2 separate regions of the Homo sapiens genome follow, and region 1 is linked to region 2. Evidence: fine-mapped expression QTL. A gene starts in region 2. The other region holds a variant in brackets. All regions are shown on one strand. Distances are from middle to middle. Region 1 overlaps GRAMD1B (GRAM domain containing 1B). Region 2 holds the start of GRAMD1B (GRAM domain containing 1B).

What was found.
Region 1: its variant is fine-mapped to the expression of GRAMD1B in whole blood (INTERVAL, PIP 0.98).

The regions. Positions count from the first base shown.
Region 1 is chr11:123,455,020-123,464,351 of GRCh38, forward strand. All of the region lies in intron 1 of GRAMD1B (GRAM domain containing 1B), which reads left to right. Among named protein-coding and RNA genes, the nearest start is that of GRAMD1B, 29 kb to the left of the region's middle. The variant G/T (reference allele first, on the strand shown) is at 4,568.
Region 2 is chr11:123,426,049-123,435,380 of GRCh38, forward strand. It overlaps GRAMD1B (GRAM domain containing 1B), which reads left to right and starts at 4,221. Exons shown (of 20, transcript NM_001387025.1): 1 at 4,221-5,118. The coding sequence starts at 4,745. LOC124902776 (a long non-coding RNA gene) reads right to left here and starts at 5,166. Exons shown (of 2, transcript XR_007062928.1): 1 at 4,899-5,166; 2 at 1-2,768. RefSeq lists silencers at 4,359-4,688, 4,799-4,848.

The DNA.
Region 1 (9,332 bases), 29 kb after region 2:
TTTTACTAGTTTTGTGATGTTTTATCCCCATCAACATCAATGACAAGTATTGTTTGAATATGTACTTCATGTAAGATGTATAAGAGCCCTACTTAATATTTAGGGAAGTAGGAAATTGAACATTTAAGTCTATTTTTTGCCCAACATATAGAGATGAGAGGGAAAAATATTTGATTAAACTATAATCTTTGTGTCTATTATGACTAGGTAGAGATTCCTTAGGATGAACTAAAATCAAAACAGATTTCACTAGAATTTATTTTTATTTTTTATTTTATAAAAACGAGGGTCTTACTATGTTGTCCTAGCAACATAGTAAGGAGTCTCGAACTCCTGGGCTCAAGTGATCTGCCTTCCTCGGCCTCCCAGTGTGCTAGGATTACAGGCATGAGCCACCGCGCCTGGCCAGATTTTACAAGAATCTGCTTGTGAATTCCCTTCAAAATTAAAATTACACTGGAACCCCTTCTGATGATATGCATTCCACTCAATTGATCATTCATCCTCTACTTGCTATCGAACTGCTGCGCTCACCATGCAATACGGCATAGTTTGCAAAGCCACGGACTCTGGAGTGATCTGCATGGATTCTGTCCAGGCTCTGCCACTTACTCTCTGCCCTTAACATATTTTTTAGCTTTTTTGAGGCTACATTCTTCAGCTTTATTGTCTTTATAACACTTTGTACTTCTGAAATTATCATCTTCTTTTATTTTTCTCTGTTGATGATCTGTCTCTCATTTCTGCATCCCTTCTGCTAAACCATAAGAATTTGAGGTCCTTGAGAGCAGGGACCTTTGCCCCATCTGTTTATTACTGTGTTCCCAGTGGTTAGAAAACAGCCTGGCATATAGAAAACACTCAACCAGGCCGGGTGGGGTGGCTCGCTCCTGTAGTCCCAGCACTTTGGGAGGCCAAGGTGGGCGGATCATTTGAGGTCAGGAGTTCGAGACCAGCCTGACCAACATGGTGAAATCCTGTCTCTACTAAAAATACAAAAAATTAGCTGGGTGTGGTGGCACACACCTGTAATCCCAGCTACTCGGAAGCCTGAGGCACGAGAATCGCTTGAACCAGGGAGGTGGAGGGAGGTTGCAGTGAGCCAAGATTGCACCACTGTACTCCAGCCTGGGCGACAGAGAGAGACTGTCTCAAAAACAAAACAAAACAAAAAAGAACAACACACTCAACAATGGCATATCCATTTTATAGAATGAGCAACTGTTAACAGTTATCCTTCTTGTCAGCAGAAGCACCAGAGGGTTAAGAAAAAAGTTTCAGATGCCTTCTCTGCCCACCAGGAGTTTGACATTCTTGTTCTCTAAGGGCAGCATTGGTGTTGTGGAAAGAGCCCCGAGAGTCAGCAAACTCGAGTTTTATTCTTTGCAGTGCTACTAAATACCTCTGTGACTTTACACTTGTCATTTACCTTCTTTGGGCTGTTGGTTTCCTGTTTGAAAAAGAAAAAATTGGGGCCAAGTGTGGTGGCGCATGCCTATAATCCCAGCACTTTGGGAGGCTGAGGCAGGCAGATCACTTGAGCCCCTGAATTTGAGACCAGCCTGGGCAATGTCATGAGACCTCGTCTCTACAGAAAATACAGAAAATAACCAGGTGTGGCCAGGCGCAATGACTCACGCCTATAATTCCAGCACTTTGGGAGGCTGAGTCAGGCAGATCACTTGAGGTCAGGAGTTTGAGACCAGACTGGTCAAAATGATGAAACTCCGTCTCTACTAAATATACAAAAATTAGCCAGGTGTGGTGGTGCACACCTGTAGTCCCAGCTACTGTGGAGGCTGAGGCAGGAGAATCACTTGAACCTGGGAGGCAGAGGTTGCTGTGAGCTGAGATGGCGCCACTGTACTCCAGCCTGGGCGACAGAGGGAGACTCTGTCTCAAAAAAAAAAAAAAAAAAGAAAAAGAAAAGAAAGAAAGAACTAGGTGTGGTGGCACATGCCTCATGCCTGTGGTCCCAGGTACTCGGGAGGCTGAGATGGGAGGATTGCTTAAGCCCAGGAGGTCAAGGCTGCAGTGAGCTGTGATGGCACCACTGCACTCTAACCTGGGTGACAGAGAGAGACCCTTTCTGAGAAAAAAAGAAAGAAAGAAAGAAAGAATTAGAACAGTTTATCCCTCGAATCCCTTCCTGCTGTGAAGTATCGGCTCATGATTTTATTAATAAAATTAGAGATTGTTATAAAATGATAACCTGGAAAGAGAGTAACAGTTAAAGGACACACTTATCAAATGAGCATACAGGAAGTGAACCAGGAAGCCACATTTCTGTGTCTCTGTTAGCTGCCTCTAAACCACGTTTGTTCTTAGACTGCTATTCTTTCCCCACTGTCCAGCCAGCGTCAGCCTACCCTCGTGGTTTAGTTCACGTGTTTTAGAATAGCCAGCAACTCCCTTCTTTCTCAATCTTTGTGTCTTCCACTTAGCCTTCAAACAGGCTTAATGGAAGATTTCTTAGCTTAGCGTCATGGGACTTTTAAGGCTAGACAGGGCCTATGTGATTGTCTAGCACACTCTGTTCATTTTACAGATAAGCAAACTGAAGTTCAGAACAATGGGGCAACTTGCTCTGTGTTCTACGGAGTCCATGACAGAGTCAGTGCTGGACCCAGCCTTATGAGCCTGGCTCTGGTGCTATTGCTCCACTGTGCTCCGTGCTCTATTTTCCACATATTTTATTTTATGTATTTGTTTTTTGAGATGGGGTCTCACTCTATCGCCTGGGCTGGAGTGCGCTGGTGCAATCACGCTTACTGCAGCCACGACCTCCTGGGCTCAAGTGATCCTCCTACCTCAGCTTCTGAGTAGCTGAGACTACAGGCATGCACCACCGCACCTGGCTAATTTCTCCACTTTTTTGTAGAGACAGGGTCCTGCTATGTTATCCAAGGTGGTCTTGAACTCCTGGGCTCAAGGAATCCTCCTGCCTCGGCCTCCCAAAATGTTGGGATTACAGGCGTAAGCCACCATGCCTGGCTGCCACATATTTTAAATAGATGAGTACCACTTTATGCATGACTCCACGATAAGTGCGTATGTATGCTACACAGAACCTAGTTGGAGTTCTGAGAGAGAGAGAGAGGAGAGGGGAGGGGATTAGGGGAATTGGCTTACATGATTATGGAGGCTGAGAAGTCCCACAACACACCGGAGACCCTGGGATGCTGGTAGCGTGGCTCAGTCCAAGTCTGCAGGCCTCAGAACCAGAGAAGCTGATGTTGTAACTCTCGGTTTGAGGCCAAAGGCCTAGAACTCAGAGAGCCACTGAGGGACAGAGAGAGGAAGAATATAATCCAACTCTGGCAGTTCCATTCACATATTCACCTTTTCTCAGTTTTTGTTTTCCAGGCCCCCAGCAGAATGGATGGTGCCCACTCACAATGAGGGCGGATCTTCCGCACCTAGTCCACTCAGACTCACATGCTGATCTCTTCTGGCAACATCTTCACAGACACGCCCAAAAATAATGCTTTACCGGGTTCCTAGGTAGTCTTTAATCCAGTCAAACTGACACCTAAAATTAACCATCACAATTACCTTCTCACTAAAATCAATCTGAGAAGAAAATGGTCATAAAGAATTTGATGCAAATCCCTTTTTTGATTTATAGGATGAACAGTATCCTAGATAAGGAAACAGTGAAAGGCTGTTTTGTTTTTTTTTTTTTTTCCCCTCCTCTTCATACTCCCCAATGTGAGTAATGGGCAAAAAATTCCAGGAGAATGGGAGCATTCTGAGTGATAAGAACAAGTATCTCTCAACATGTAGAGTGTGTATACGGGTGGGTTATTTTCAAATTTCAAGTCTGCAAATGGGTAGTTCCAGGTATGGCTTGGTGATTGAAGTGGAGGTTCTTTTGGGGCTAGTCCTTTGTGCTCCTGTAATTTCCCCCCAACTCTGAGTCTGAGCTCAGTGAGAACAATCACTTTAATGCTTAATGCACACCGTAATACACAGCGGAGTTAACAGAATATTCAGACAATCACAGACACAATGGCCTTCCTAGCCATGAGTTTGGAAAAGTGTTTCTAGGAGCTTGTTGTAGCAGAGGCTGTGTAGATGACAAAGAACATGCACTGCATTGTAGATGGGTTATAGTTATGGTGACCAGCCCTTGGAGTTAGGGCAGATTGGGGTATTTGATTGCAAAGAAATAAGACACTTCTATATATTTTTTTTTAATTTGCTGATCATGGGAAAATCTTCATGAACCCTTATCTTCTTTTTTTTTTTTTGAGATGGAGTTTTGCTTTTGTCACCCAGGCGAGAGTGCAGTGGCATGATCTGGGCTCACTGCAACCTCCATCTCCTGGGTTCAAGCAATTCTCCTGCCTCAGCCTCCAGAGTAGCTGGGATTACAGGTGTGAGCCACCATACCTGGCTAATTTTCTATTTTTAATAGAGGTGGGGTTTTGCCATGTTGTCTAGGCTGGTCTCCAACTCCCGACTTCAGATGATCCACCCACCTCGGCCTCCCAAATTGTTGAGATTACAGGCATGCACCACTGTGGTCGGCCATATTCATGATTTAAAGGAATTGAAGATAAAA[G/T]AATTGAGTTTGATAAAAAAGAGAGAGAAGAATATTATTTTCTTCAAATACTGACTTTTAAGTGAGATAGTGTGCAAAAAATCCATATACTAGGTACTCAAATACCTGTTAGTTGACCCTTCCCCTATGATGTGAACTGGTTATTCACAACTATCTTTATACTTTAAGTCCTGTTCCTAAACACACACTGAGGTTCTGGAGGGCAGGGCTGGGTCTTAGGTAAATTTGTTCTGCTACCTTCTCACTGGACACCTGGCTCACCCAAAGCTTGCCTCTCATCTGTTTTCTGTGTACAGATTGCCATTCAAAAAGTGTTTTCTGAGTGAATGAATTATTTACTTTATGGAGCATCAACATCCTTTTTATGTTCTTGTCCATTTTTATGTCCTTGTCCTCACCCTTGTCCCTTCAAGTTCAGTGGGTCCCAGAACTGAACTTGAAGAGAGTTAATTGGATATAGGCCAGGAGTGTGATTGGACATACGTGTGTGTGTGTTTCATTAAAATTCTCAAACTAAAAATAAATGGTTTGTGGATTAGTCAACTTCTGTTTTCTTCTGCTCGATATCCTGAATTATCCAGTACCTGTTGCCTCCATGCTACTGAAAAGTGACCATGTGTGGTATGACAAGCTTATCAGAAGGCTGTCAAAGTGCTTGGCAGAGAAGACATGGAGTTTAATCCTGAGTGGAAAATGGCATTGTGGAAACAGATGAATTATAGTAGATGAATATAGTAGAAAATATAGTAGATGAATTAAAGTACATGAATTATCTACTTTGTGGACCATCAAAATCCTTTTTATGTTCTTGTCCAAGTTCAGTGGGTTCCGGGACTGAACTTGAAGAGGGTTAATTGGATATAGGCCAGGAGCGTGATTGGGCAGATTTGTGGCAATTACACCTAGACACCGTGACTCCAGCCCCAGTCAATGCGGGGATTTCTCCCCAGGCCCCCCAGGGCACTCTGTGAGTGTTAATGACCAGAGTTTTTGGTTAGGACTGTTTTTATGTCTTCCAATTGGAAAAAACAAGATAATGCTTTTACCATAAGCCAGTTTTTCCCGGGGCTAAGGGCAAATGAAATTGGATGGTGGTTGGGTCAGCAGGATTTGGGGGGCGGACAGGAGTGGGGCAGGGAAGGGGAGGCAGGAAGCTGAAAGGATTCTTTCTGGAAAACAGCACAGCTTGCGGGCTGCTTGTCCTTGAGCTCCGAGGTCACTAGAGCGGTTGGTCTTTGATAGGGTTTCTGCATGAATCCCCTGCTCCTACGTTTCCTTTGTCCCTTTAGGACCCAAGAATCCATCTGCCTTCCCAGGTGCATCAGCTTCTCCTTTCCTTGGGCGCCTCTTTCCTGGGCCGTCCAGGAAGAACACAAGGCTCTCTGTGTCTTTCCCACCTCGTGACCTTTTGGAATTCACATATTTTTGGCTTTTTAAGAGGTTTGGCTTGTGTTGACTAGAGGGAAACAGGTGATAGCAAAATTAATAGCCAGTTGGGAAGCCATAGTCATAAAAAATGTCTTAAAAACATATTGAGTCTTAATTGAGTTTGGTCTTCAATCAGATGTGAATGGACCAGTGCTCCTGTTGCCTGGGCTGCTTCTAAAATGTTCTTGTCAGTTCAGTCGTCTTTCTGGGGAATCAGCTGCCCCGACTGACTCCAGGTTGGCTCCTAAATCAAGCTATGTTGACTTCAGCTGGCAGAAAAGCCAAGCTGGCACTGCTACCAGGACTGTTTCCTAAGAGTCCCCCAGGGCACCAGCATTTCTGTCTGCAGCTGGCCGAGCCCTTGTGATTCCTGTCCTTGTGGCTAAATGAGGTGGTGCTGGCCTCTCTGGTTCCCAAAGACTCCCCCTTGGGCTGCAGGCCAAACGTCACTGGCCTCCTAGAAGTCTCTCCAGCCCTGGCTCTAGCTCTGGGAAGTCCTGGCCTATGCCTTGGCACACTGCTCTGTCTTTTTTGGATTGTCTATGGTTTCTTCCCCAGCTGGTTGTTGAGACAGCTCTACTTTTTGTTGTTGTTGTTGTTTTGTTTTGAGACAGAGTTTCGTTCTTGTTGCCCAGGCTGCAGTGCAATGGCGTGATCTCGGCTCACTGCAACCTCTGCCTCCTGGGTTCAAGTGATTCTTCTGCCTTAGCCTCCCGAGTAGCTGGGATTACAGGTGTCCACCACCACACTCGGCTAATTTTTGTATTTTTAGTAGAGACGGGGGTTTCACCATGTTGGCCAGGCTGGTCTCAAACTCCTGACCTCATGCGATACCCCCGCCTCAGCCTCCCAAAGTGCTGGGATTACAGGCATGAGCCACTGCGCCCGGCCAAGATAGCTCTACTTTCAAGTGCAGGTTTTTTTTTTTTCTGGTATGGTCATTTGTTTATTTCTTTTTTTTTTTTTTTTTGAAATGGGATCTTGCTCTGTCGCCCAGGCTGGAGTGCAGTGGCACGGTCTTGGCTCACTGCAAGGTCCACCTCCTGGGTTCACGCCATTCTCCTGCCTCAGCCTCCCGAGTAGCTGGGACCACAGGCGCCCGCCACCATGCCTGGCCAATTTTTCTGTATTTTTAGTAGAGATGAGGTTTCACCATGTTAGCCAGGATGGTCTCGATCTCCTGACCTCGTGATCTGCCCGCCTTGGCCTCCCAAAGTGCTGGGATTACAGGTGTGAGCCACCGTGCCGGGCCAGTCATTTGTTTATTTCTATGGTTTCACCTGTGGCTTTGTGACCTCAGTGGCAGGTGCCATCCCCTGACAAACTGCCTCAAACTGGGCAGAGCAGACTCGTTACTTCTTGTTTCAAGGTTTTCACTTGCCTTGGACTTCCCAGATGCTCTTGCTTTCTAGCTGAGGGCTGCCACCTGCAAAGCAGAGACGGCTGACACTTGTGGCAGAGTGAACATTCAAGCTCAGCTCAGCCCCTGAGTCCCAGCCCAAGCTCAGAGTCCCTTCAGTCTCATCAGTGAGGTTATCCCTGCCACCCACCCCTTCTCCAAGTGAATGCTACGCTCCAGCACTGGAGTGTGCTTAAGGTGAAAGAATAAAGAATTCAGGGACAAAAAACCTTAAACTGAAATCCCTGTTTCTCAGATGCTTGAAGGCAGCATGCTCGTTAAGAGTCATCACCAATCCCTAATCTCAAGTAATCAGGGACACAAACACTGCGGAAGGCCGCAGGGTCCTCTGCCTAGGAAAACCAGAGACCTTTGTTCACTTGTTTATCTGCTGACCTTCCCTCCACTATTGTCCCATGACCCTGCCAAATCCCCCTCTGTGAGAAACACCCAAGAATTATCAATAAAAAAATAAATTAAAAAAAAAAAAAAAAAAAAAGAAATCCCTGTTTCTTAGCTTACCAGCACAGTTTGCTCATAGACGTGCCATGTATCCCTGTGAAGTCTTATTTTCTTCATCTTTATTATTTATTTATATTTATTTATTTATTTTAAGATGGAGTCTCACTTTGTCACCCAGGCTGGAGTGCGATGGCGCGATCTCGGCTCACCGCAACCCCTGCCTCCTAGGTTCAAGTGATTCTCATGCCTCAGCCTCCCGAGTAGCTGGAACTACAGGCATGGGCCACCACCACGCCTGACTAATTTTTTATATTTTCAGTAGAGTCGGGGTTTCACCACGTTGGCCAGGCTGGTCTCCAACTCCTGGCCCCAAGTGATCCACCCGCCTTGGCTTCCCAAATTGCTGGGATTACAGGCATGAGCCACCGTGCCCAGCCTATTTTCTTCATCTTTAAAATGGGGATCAGAGTGTATACACTTCTTATTTACCTGATGAGGGTAAAAAGTTGGAAGCATATACATGGGAGCACTTTGTAGATGGGGAAGAAGTGTTTTAATGGGAAGGTTTATTCCTAGTATTAAATACAACATATTAGTATGCAGTATCTTGAATGAATTGAAAAAAGCAGCCAGAGTTTGCACTAAAGGAGGTGTTCTCTGATGTAGCCAACAGGTTCTCTCCACCACACGGGCAGAGCTACCGTCTCACTGGTAATAACTGTGCCAACTTGGATTTGTCATTAGTCCTATGGCTCAAAGGAGACAGAGCTCTGGGTCAGCAGAGAAAAAAGTCAATGAGTTAATATTTGAATGCACCAAGGGAAGGGACAGGCCTCTGTGTGACACAGCGCCCAATAGGCCAGGGTGGAAGATATGGATCATATAGAAGGGAAATGAAGAGAAAGTGGAGAGCACAACATGCACGAAGTTGCAGGAATGAATGTGCATGGGAGATTTGGGGAGCACGAGCCCCAGAAAGGAAAACTGTGTAAAGGCCTCAGGAAGAGCTTTCTGCTGGGGAAGTCAGTTTCATGTAGTAAGGCCTTGTGTGGCAGGCAGAAAACTTTGGACTGTATTCTATGACATTATAGGAAGACTTCAAGAGACTGTAACTTGGGAAGAGACTTGACTAGAGCTGTTTTAGAAGATAACAGGGGTGGGCCATGCCTGTAATCCCAGCACTTTGGGAGGCCAAGGTGGGAGGGTCGCTTGAGCCGAGGAGCTCAAGACCAGCCTGGGCAACAAAGGGAGACCCCATTTCTAAAAAAAAAAAAAAAATTTAGCTGGGTGTGGTGGTGCACACCTGTGGTCCCAGCTACTCGGCAGGCTGGGGTGGAAGGATTGCTTGAGCCTGGGAGTTGAAGACTGCAGTGAGCCATGTTCATGCCACTGCACCCCAGCCTGGGAGACAGAGCTAGCAAGACTTGGCCTCTAAAATAGTAATAATGATAATAATAATAATAACATCTAGGCACA
Region 2 (9,332 bases):
GTGGGTCTCAGGGAGGTGTTTAGCATCCGGTGATCAAAATGCCTTTGAGCCAGTAACAGGTCAGCTCAAACAGACTTTGTTTTAGGTGTAAGTGAATTGCTTCTACTTTAAAAAGAAACAATCTGGGTCTTAGAGACCCACAGTAGTAGGGTGGGCTGGGCCTTTAAGAGATCATCTCTTTCCTGCCACTGCCTCTAAGTAGGCTCCAGTTACCTTTAAAAGACCTACAGAGAAAGCCATTCTCTACCCAGTCTTAGTCATTCAGGCCAGTCCTTAACCAGCCTTACACTCGGTAAATGTTTATCATCTATCCCAAATCCCCCATGCTGCACTCTACAGAAATGCATTTCCTCTTGCTCAGCAGCAAAATGAGAGCTGCAGAGTGAAATCTGGCCATCCTTCATTGTGTGTTTGAAGACAGTCAACATTGCTCTCAGCATCATCCACGTTTCTGTCCGTATTTCCAGCTTCCCTGCCAGCCTCAAATTCCACTTCTTCTATGCTCACTGCCTGCTTCTTTCCCTCATAATGGGCCAACCGTTGGGATTGGCCGTTCGAATGTTGTGTAGGGGAGAGACTCTGTGTCCCAGTGTTGAGAGTGGGGATTGTCTGTCTTGCAACAACAGTGTTGTGGGGAGACATTCCTGTGTCTTTGGGAGTTCCCTGCCTTGGCATCCTGGAGCAGGTGCAATAAGGTGTCCGGGGTGCCAGCGCCTTCCAGTTCACATTTACTTGGATGTGTACCCAGGAGAAATCTAGTCTGGAAGCTACTATGTTTCACTAAAGTTTTCCCCTGGAAATTGAATAATAATAGTAGTTTATGAGTCTCCAGAAGTAATAGACAGGTGTTGGGTGTCTTGTGTCTGTAGGAAAAGGGAGCTTGTGCAGCTGAGAATAAACAACAGTTGCTTGGTAATATGACCTCCTTTCATTTAAAGTCAGAGGCCTGGCTGCAGGTGGGGAAAGGGGAGGCTGGGTTGTTCTGGTTACCACCTGTCTGGGGAAGCGGGGAATGGGGGCAAAGGTGAGGTCTGTTTCACAGAGAACTGTGCGGTCGCTGAGAGCCAAATATTGGAGAGAAGAAATATGGGAGTGGGGAGACTTGGGGAGCAAGTGCAATCGCTGAGATTCTGACGCAGGGCATGAAAACTCTTTGGTTCTGATGTTGGCACCAGCTACTTTGAGAAATTGTTTCTCTACACTTTTGGAGGCCTCTAAACTGGCTTCAGAAGGCATGAGTTCCAATTCTGGCCTTGTCATTGATTAGCCATCATCATTTATCTGTGACCTTGGATAAACTACTGAATCTCTCTGTCCCACTTTCATCAATTGTAAAGGCCGCTGGGAAGACACAGTGTGATGTATGAAAGCTCTTTCCAAAAGTGTAAAGGTCACCATACACATAACAAGCACAGGATACTGGAGAGAATTAAAGGAAGGAGAAACTTGATTCTTTTCTCAAGGAGCTTATAGTCTTAACAGTAATGTTGGCTCACAGCTGTAGGGCATTTCATATTTCAAAGCAGTGCCTCATTTATTATCTTACTTGCCAGAGCCATGGGCAACAGAAACAGCTGGAAAGGGCTGAAGGATGTGTTTTGAACAGGGTTTTAACGGTCAAAAGGGTTATGGCTTGAAAAAAAGAAGGGACTGCAGGTGCAAGTGAGTAAGGACAGCGTTCAGGCTAAGAGAGCTCAGGGTATCTGCTTCCCAATCAAGTGAAACATTTTAGATTCCTGCTTGGAGGTTTTCCCTCAGGCCGGGTGAAATGTAAATGATCACTCTTAGCCACTGCTGTGCCCAAGGCTTGAATTAAATCTCACAGGATTTCAGTTCCAGAATCTACTGTGAGTGGGAAAAGTGGCTGAAGTGTGTGGGAAGAGGGTGCTGGTGGCTTTTCTTCCTTGTAAGAGGTATACACTTAAATTCAGAGTGCCCAGAACAAACTTAAAGCTTCCTCCCTTGTTTCTTCTCCCTCTTCCCAAGCTGCCCATAGAATCTTCTGGCCCCTGTCTTGTGGACCATCCTTTTGTGTTTTTGGCCTCCAAGCGAATGGTGGTGTCCTGGCTTCCTTTCTTCCCATAAGCCCCTGAGACCCTCATCTTCTATGTCAAGAGCCCGCCCAAAACTCAGGTTCCTTGAACTGGGAAGTTATCAGATCCCTTGCAAAACACTCGTCCTTGGAGGAAGTACAAGGCAGTGAACAAACTCTGTGGAACTTGGCTTAGCTCCCGATCCTGAAGTTTGGAGTTACAGTGCAATCTCCTCAGCATCCCTGGAGCCGGAAGAGGTGACCTTGGCAGGCCTGACACCTGATGGCAAGGGGTTTCTGCTTTCTGTGCTATGTCCAGGAGTTAAAGTAGAGTGAAACCAAATCACTCCTGAGAGGGCCAGTGGCTGGATTTCAGAAACGGGGGCTGACATTCCAGGGAGTCATTTATGGGAGGGCCTGGCCTTGGCTCTTCAGCCGCAGTATCTCTCTCCCTGAGGAAGAAATATTTCCCTTGGTTTCCCAGCCTCTCAAAAGTTGTGTAATGTCAGGATGCCTTGAGCTTTTCCATACTTGACAAGTGTCATTGCAGAGCTTGGTAGATCCATAGCCAGCTGTCATCCTTGATGTCTTGCTGAACTGCAGGGATGTATTTACTTGCAGTGAATTCTTGTGATCTTTAGGGATGTGAATTTTCCTCAGCTTCGGGACACTTGTGAAATGTGACTTTTGTCCTGGCACGGAAGCTGGGCATTGGCTCCCAGATGGAAACTGGACTCTGAGAGAGGCAGAAAAGAAGGGTGGATCAGATTGTGGACTTCATGGTATGTTCTTGGGTGCTTCTCATGATCTCTTTGAAAGTTACTGACCAGGCTGGGCATGGTGGCTCATGCCTGTAATCTCAGCACTTTGGGAGGCCAAGGTGGGCAGATCACTTGAGGCCAGGAGTTTGAGACCAGCCTGGGCAATATAGCAAGACCTCATATCGACAAAAAGAAATAAAACTTAGCTGCGTGTGGTGGTGCGCACCTGTACTCCCAGCTACTCAGGAGGCTCAGCTGGGAGGACAGCTTGAGCCCAGGAATTCAAGGTTGCGGTGAGCCATGACTGCACCACTGCACTCCAGCCTGGGCAACAGAGTGAGACTTTGTCTCTTAAAAACAAAACAAAACAAAACAGTTACTGACCCAAGAGACAAATGCATTGGGCTGGGGTTGAAGGAGGAGAATGGCTGCTACAGCCCTGCTCTAGGAGCTGGGCTGGGTTAGACTCAGTGCCCACAGAGAGCACCTAAATAGGATGGATCGGTTCTAGGGTTGATGATCTCTTAGGGCCTGGGTCTAGAGAGTGAGTGTGGTTCAGCACATCTTGGGATGCTACCAGGACTGAACCAGACTTCCTAGGTTCCATGACATGGGGACATACTGGATTCTGTGACTCAGTCCATGGCAGGCTGAAGCAGAACTGAATCAGCCCTCAGCAATGTAAGGGGGGGTACCCTCGACTCCCTGGGGCTCTGTTGGATGCATTGCTTTGTGGGTGCTCACCGACTCCTCATTTCATTCTTTGCTAGGGACGCGGCTATGGTACTGGCAGCTGGCTCATGTACAGGGTTCAGGCCCCATTTTCCTTACTGGTCCTGTGTCCTTTGTCTCTCAGACCCTGTTGTCTGTCTTTCCTTGGTATGTCATGTCTGGTATCCTCAGCTCACGCCGCCACGGGAGAACTGTCCTCTTCTCAGCTTGTCATTTTGGAAGCAGCCTCCAGCAACCTTGCTTTCCTCCTCTGACTATACTCCGGCCTGCAGTGCCACTACTCACGCCCCCAAATAATTTAAACTGCCTTTCTTAGGAGACAAGAGCTAGTTGAAAAGTCTCCTCATTTTCCTTCAACCCTGTATCATGGGTGGCCTGAGAGAGTGAGGACTGAATTCATTGACTCCCCTTTCTCTGCACCCCCCACCCCCAAGGAAATAGCCGAGTTCGACTAATGGGAGTTGCCTGGCCAATCGTTGCCCTGAGAAAGTTTGGTTTGTGATCCTATTTCAGTAGGCTGATTGGAGCAGCCTTTACTTGGAGGTCGAGTCCCTCCCCGAGGGAATCCGTGTACAGTTACACTAGCGGTCGCTGCCAGTGCTAGCCCATTCAGGATAGCCCCCCTCACCCCGCCCCCAGCCCCCGCTCCTCCTCCTCCTTTTTTGTTTTTATCCAGTGTCTCGCTTCCTCTCTCTCTCTCTCTCTCTGTCTCTCTCTCCCTTTCCCTCCTACCACTGCCTCTTCCTCCCGCTCTCTACCTCCCTGCAGCGCCAAGCCGGCTCCCCAACCTGGTCTGCTGAACGCAAACCGCTGAGAGTTTGCTGCACCGCCCCCTGGGGCCCCTGGCTGCCGAGTCCCGCTAAGGCAAAGACGCCAGCAAGCGAGGAAGCGCAGCGGAAGAAAAACAAGCGGGCGCGCGAGGGGAGCCCCAGGAGGGCTGCCGAGTGGCTGGCAGGCGGCTCCCGCCCCTCCCGGGTGGCCTCGCCGGCGGCTGACGGCCCGGAGGACGCGCGCTCCGAAAAGTTAGACTCCGGGCGGCGGCGCGCTACGCCGCGTCCCCTCGCGTCCCTTCCTCGCTGCGCTCCGGGAAAGGAACTTGTTCCTTCGGCCCCAGGATTGGGGAGTGTGCCGCGGGGCCGAGGGTGGGGAACAGCCAGAGGGAGACGCGAACCAGGCCGCTGGCGGAGGGCTCAGGGGGAGCGCAGAGGCGACGGCCCCCATGCCGGCGGCCAACATGATGGAGAACCGGCCGCTGCCCGCCCTGCAGGTGCCCGAGCCGCAGGGTGCGCCCGAGGGCAGCCCGGTCTGGTCCAGTTCGTCGACCCCCACGCTTCGCCGCCGGCGCTTCAAGATGCGCCGCATGAAGAACGTACAGGAGCAGAGCCTGGAGGCCGGGCTGGCCCGGGACCTGCCCGCCGTCTTGGCCCCCGGCAAGGAGTTCCTGCAGCTGCCGTCCATCGAGATCACGCCCTCCAGCGACGAGGACACCCCGTGGTCCAACTGCTCCACACCCAGCGCGTCCCCGCGCCGAAAACGCTTCCTCCTCCGCAAGTGGCTGAGGGTGAGGGAGCGGAAGGAGTGCAGTGAAAGCAGGTACGTCCCCGTTCCGCCCGTCTCCTTCCCTTCCCTCCCGTCCTCTCCAGAGCCGTCCAGGGCCCCGGGGCATTCTGGGGGAAACGTCCTGGGGGAGAACAGGAGCCCGTCACCAGAGGCGCTTCTGGAGGGCGCTGCGCCTGGTCCCAGGGATGGTGGCATTCAGCTTCCACGCGTGCCACCCGCTCCCCAACTCAGGGTGAGGGGCTTCATGTTGCACGACACGTTTACGTGGGGCTTTACGCTGCATTCCATCTCCCTTGATCCTCGCAGCGAAATAAATAATAAAAATAATAACAGCTAATAGTTATTGAGCCCTTACCATGTGCGGGCCACTATGTTGCGCACTTCATGTACCTCCAGATTTCATCCCTACGCAAACTCTCTGAGGTAGGTATTACTATGGCTCCCTTTCTACAGAAGGAGATAGTAAAAGGCCAGAGAACAGTTAAGTGGTTTATATTTCAGGACTCCGTTTCAATCTTATTTTATGTTTGGCCACACCGGATTGCCTTAACTGGCTCACTTGTGTGGAAGTGAAATATTGACATTGAGTGAGTCACATTTCCTACCATATCAGAGTCTTTAGACATCGATACCTACAAGACTGTGGTTTGTACCAGCTAGTTTTTTGCCTAGGTCAATGTGGCATCTGGGTAATGGGAGAAGGTTGAGCTTCCCTCACGTAGAGAATTGCTGCAGGGCGCCCTAGAGCAGCTCTACACAGCCCTGGTCAGGACTGCTGCTTCAGGAAGTTGTGTCTGAGCCAAGCCCCTTGCCTGGTGGAGGGCAGGGAGTCCTCACTTGTTCATCGGTACCACGAATCCTACATATTTACTTTGAGACTTTAGGGTCCTGTCTCTTAATGGATTTGTGTTCTTGTGCGGAGCAACTGAGTCATTGATCACTTTCCCTGGAATTCCTTCTCCAAATCTGTTCAATTACATTGATTTCAATTCAGTAAGTACTTACTGAATATTTCTGTGAGCTCAGTCTAGTAACAGCTAATAGTGGTGATGTTGAGGAGGGTGTGGGGGAAGGATAGGTAGAGTAAGGGGTTGTAGAGGCTGAGAAGGAAGATGAGGGGAGGCTTGTATAAGAAATGAACACCTGGGCACAGTGGCTCACACCTGTAATCCCAGCACTTTGGGAGGCCGAAGCGTGTGGATCACTTGAGGTCAGGAGTTCGAGACCACCCTGGCCAACATGGCGAAACTCCATTTCTGTTAAAAGTACAAAAATTAGCTGGGTGTAGTGGCAGGCTCCTGTAATCCCAACTACTTGGGAGGCTGAGGCAAGAGAATCGCTTGAACCTGGGTACAGGGGCTGCAGTGAGCCAAGACTGTGCCACTGCACTCCAGCCTGGGCCACAGAGTGAGACTCTGTCTCAAAAAAAAAAAAAAAAATTGAAGACCTGTGGGAGCCATTGGAAAACATACTGTGCTGTGTGGTACTGATTGTACTAGAAAAGAGAGAGTTCTGGAGAAGTAGAGGAAGACTTCTTGAAGGAAGAGGCTGACACCATGACAAATACAGATGGGTAGTAGAAAACAGCAGGAAAAGAATGAGGTTGGGTGCATAAGACTGGCTGAAGGGAACAATATGAAGAATGGCAGGAGAAACAGGATGAGCCATGTGTCTTTGCGGGGTGGGGACTGAGGAGTAGGATCCGTTATGCAGAAGATGGGCATTTTGGGCCTTCCAGAGTTTATCTTTTCTGTTTGCAACAACTGAGCATGGTTCTCTCAGCAGGTGCAGATACAGAGCTTTGTTCCGTGGATTTTTGTGGACGCTGGGGATAGAAGTTCTTTCTGTTTGGTACTTCATCCTGCTACCCTTTTCACAGAGTAGAGGGAAATGGGGCAAGCTTGGTGGGAGCTAACCTTGAACTAAAGTAGTTTGTCAGGCCAGGGGCGGTGGCTAATGCCTGTAATCCCAGCACTTTGGGAGGCTGAGGCGGGAGGGTCACCTGAGGTGAGGCGGGAGGGTCACCTGAGGTCAGGAGTTCGAGACCAGCTTGGCCAACATGGTGAAACCCTGTCTCTACTAAAAATACAAAAAATTAGCCAGGTGTAGTAGCGGGTGCCTGTAATCCCAGCTACTCGGGAGGCCAAGGCGGGAGAATTGCTTGAACCCGGGAGGTGGAGGTTGCAGTGAGCCAAGATCGCGCCATTGCACTCCAGCCTGGGCAACAAGAGCGAAACTTCATCTTAAATGAATAAATAAATAAAGTAGTTTGTCATGGCTTGTCGGCTTTTCCCTCCAATGTAAAAGAAACTAAAAGAGACCTTCTTTTGATCTTGAGATTCTGCCATATATACTGAGGACAAAATATGGTAAAAAGAGCCGGGTGCAATGGCATGGCCTGTATTCCCAGCTACTTGGGTTGTGGTGTGAGGATCACATGAGCCCAAGAGTTCAAGGCTTTAGTAGGCTATAATGGTGCCTGTGAATAACCACTGCATTTCAGCCATGGTGAGACCCCCACCCCCAACGCTTAAAATGTTACGTGCGTGTGTGTGTGTGTGTGTGTGTGTGTGTGTGTGTCTTTGTGTGTATGAAGAAAAAAATCTTGCATTGCTGGCTAGGATGGGGATGACAGTAGATTTGGTTAGATTTAGGAAGGTATTCCTGGTTTCGAGAGTTGTCTATGTGTGTAGTGGAACCTTCATTTTGTTGGATTTGGGGACATATCCTTAAAATTTGGCAGGATTTTCATCTAGATGTAGTTCAGGCAGTTATTTTAAGTGGTGACTTTTGGATTAGAAGAACCTATGTATCAGCCGGGCGCAGTGGCTCACGCCTGTAATCCTAGCACTTTGGGAGGATGAGGCAGGCAGATTGCCTGAGCTCAGGAGTTAGCCACCAACTTGGGCAACACGGAGAAACACCGTCTCTACTAAAAATACAAAAATTAGCCAGGTGTGGTGGTGGACACCTGTAGTCCCAGCTACTCGGGAGGCTGAGGCAGGAGAATTGCTTGAACCTAGGAGGTGGAGGTTGCAGTGAGCCGAGATCTCGCCACTGCACTCCAGCCTGGGCAACAGAGTGAGACTCCGTTTCCAAAAAAAAAAAAAAAAAAAAAAAACCACCACCAACAAAAAACAAGAACATATGTATCTGAAAAGGCAGACTCTGGATTCAAATTCAAATTCGTGTGACTCACATCTACTCTTAGCTACTGTTATACTGCCTTCTGTTGGAATCTATTTGGATTGTGTGTAAAACAAAGCCCCATCATTTTTAGGCCTCGAAGATGAAAGGCTTCCTTCCAAGAAAAGCAGCAATCAAGTGAATAGGTGCTCGTAGATACCACCAAGTGGCCTGAGAAGGAATTGGTGGCGGGGTGTGGTAGCTCATGCCTGTAATCCCAGCACTTTGGGAGGCTGAGGAGGCAGATCATTTGAGGCCAGGAGTTCGAGACCAGCCTAGCCAACATGGCAAAACCCTGTTGCTACTAAAAATACAAAAATTAGCTGGACATGGTAGTGCGCGCCTGTAATCCCAGCTACTCAGGAGGCTGAGGCATGAGAATTGCTTGAACTTTGTGGGCAAAGGTTTCAGTGAGCTGAGATCACACCACTGCACTCCAGCCTGGGCGACAGAGCAAGACTCCATTTCCAAAAGAAAATAGAATTGGCATTTAGAGGCAATGGAGTGCAGGGAACATTGGACTTAATATCAGAAGACAGCTGTATATTTAAGTTCTATCATCGATTAGCTATGGAGATTAGCTTGAGCATTTCACTTTACCTCCATGAGTTTCACCTTCTTCATTTGTGGAAGAGGATCTCTGTGGGTTAATGGGAAGTCTGAAGAGTAGTGAATGTGAAAATGTTTTGCAAACTTCCTCTTGCTGTGCAAGGGTGAAGGCTTATTTCATTACTCTGTGAGTCTCTCACATGGAATGGATGTTTGCTTAAAAGTATGAGGTTACATACTCACGTGTCCTGGAGCAGCACCTGAGCCTCCTCACACAATTCAGGATTTGGAAATGATGGTTGGAAAATGGCTCTGCTCTGGCCTGGATTAGGGAGGATTAGCATACCAGGCCCAGCATGACGTCTCCACATTCCCCACCCCAAATCTCCTGCTCCAAAAGAGAGAAAAACACCTTTCAGGCTTGCTATGAAATTCAGCGTGATGTGGTAGAAGTTAAGTGGCTGAGAGGGCCATAGCTTGTGGATTTCTTTTAATTTTTGTTTTTTCATTAT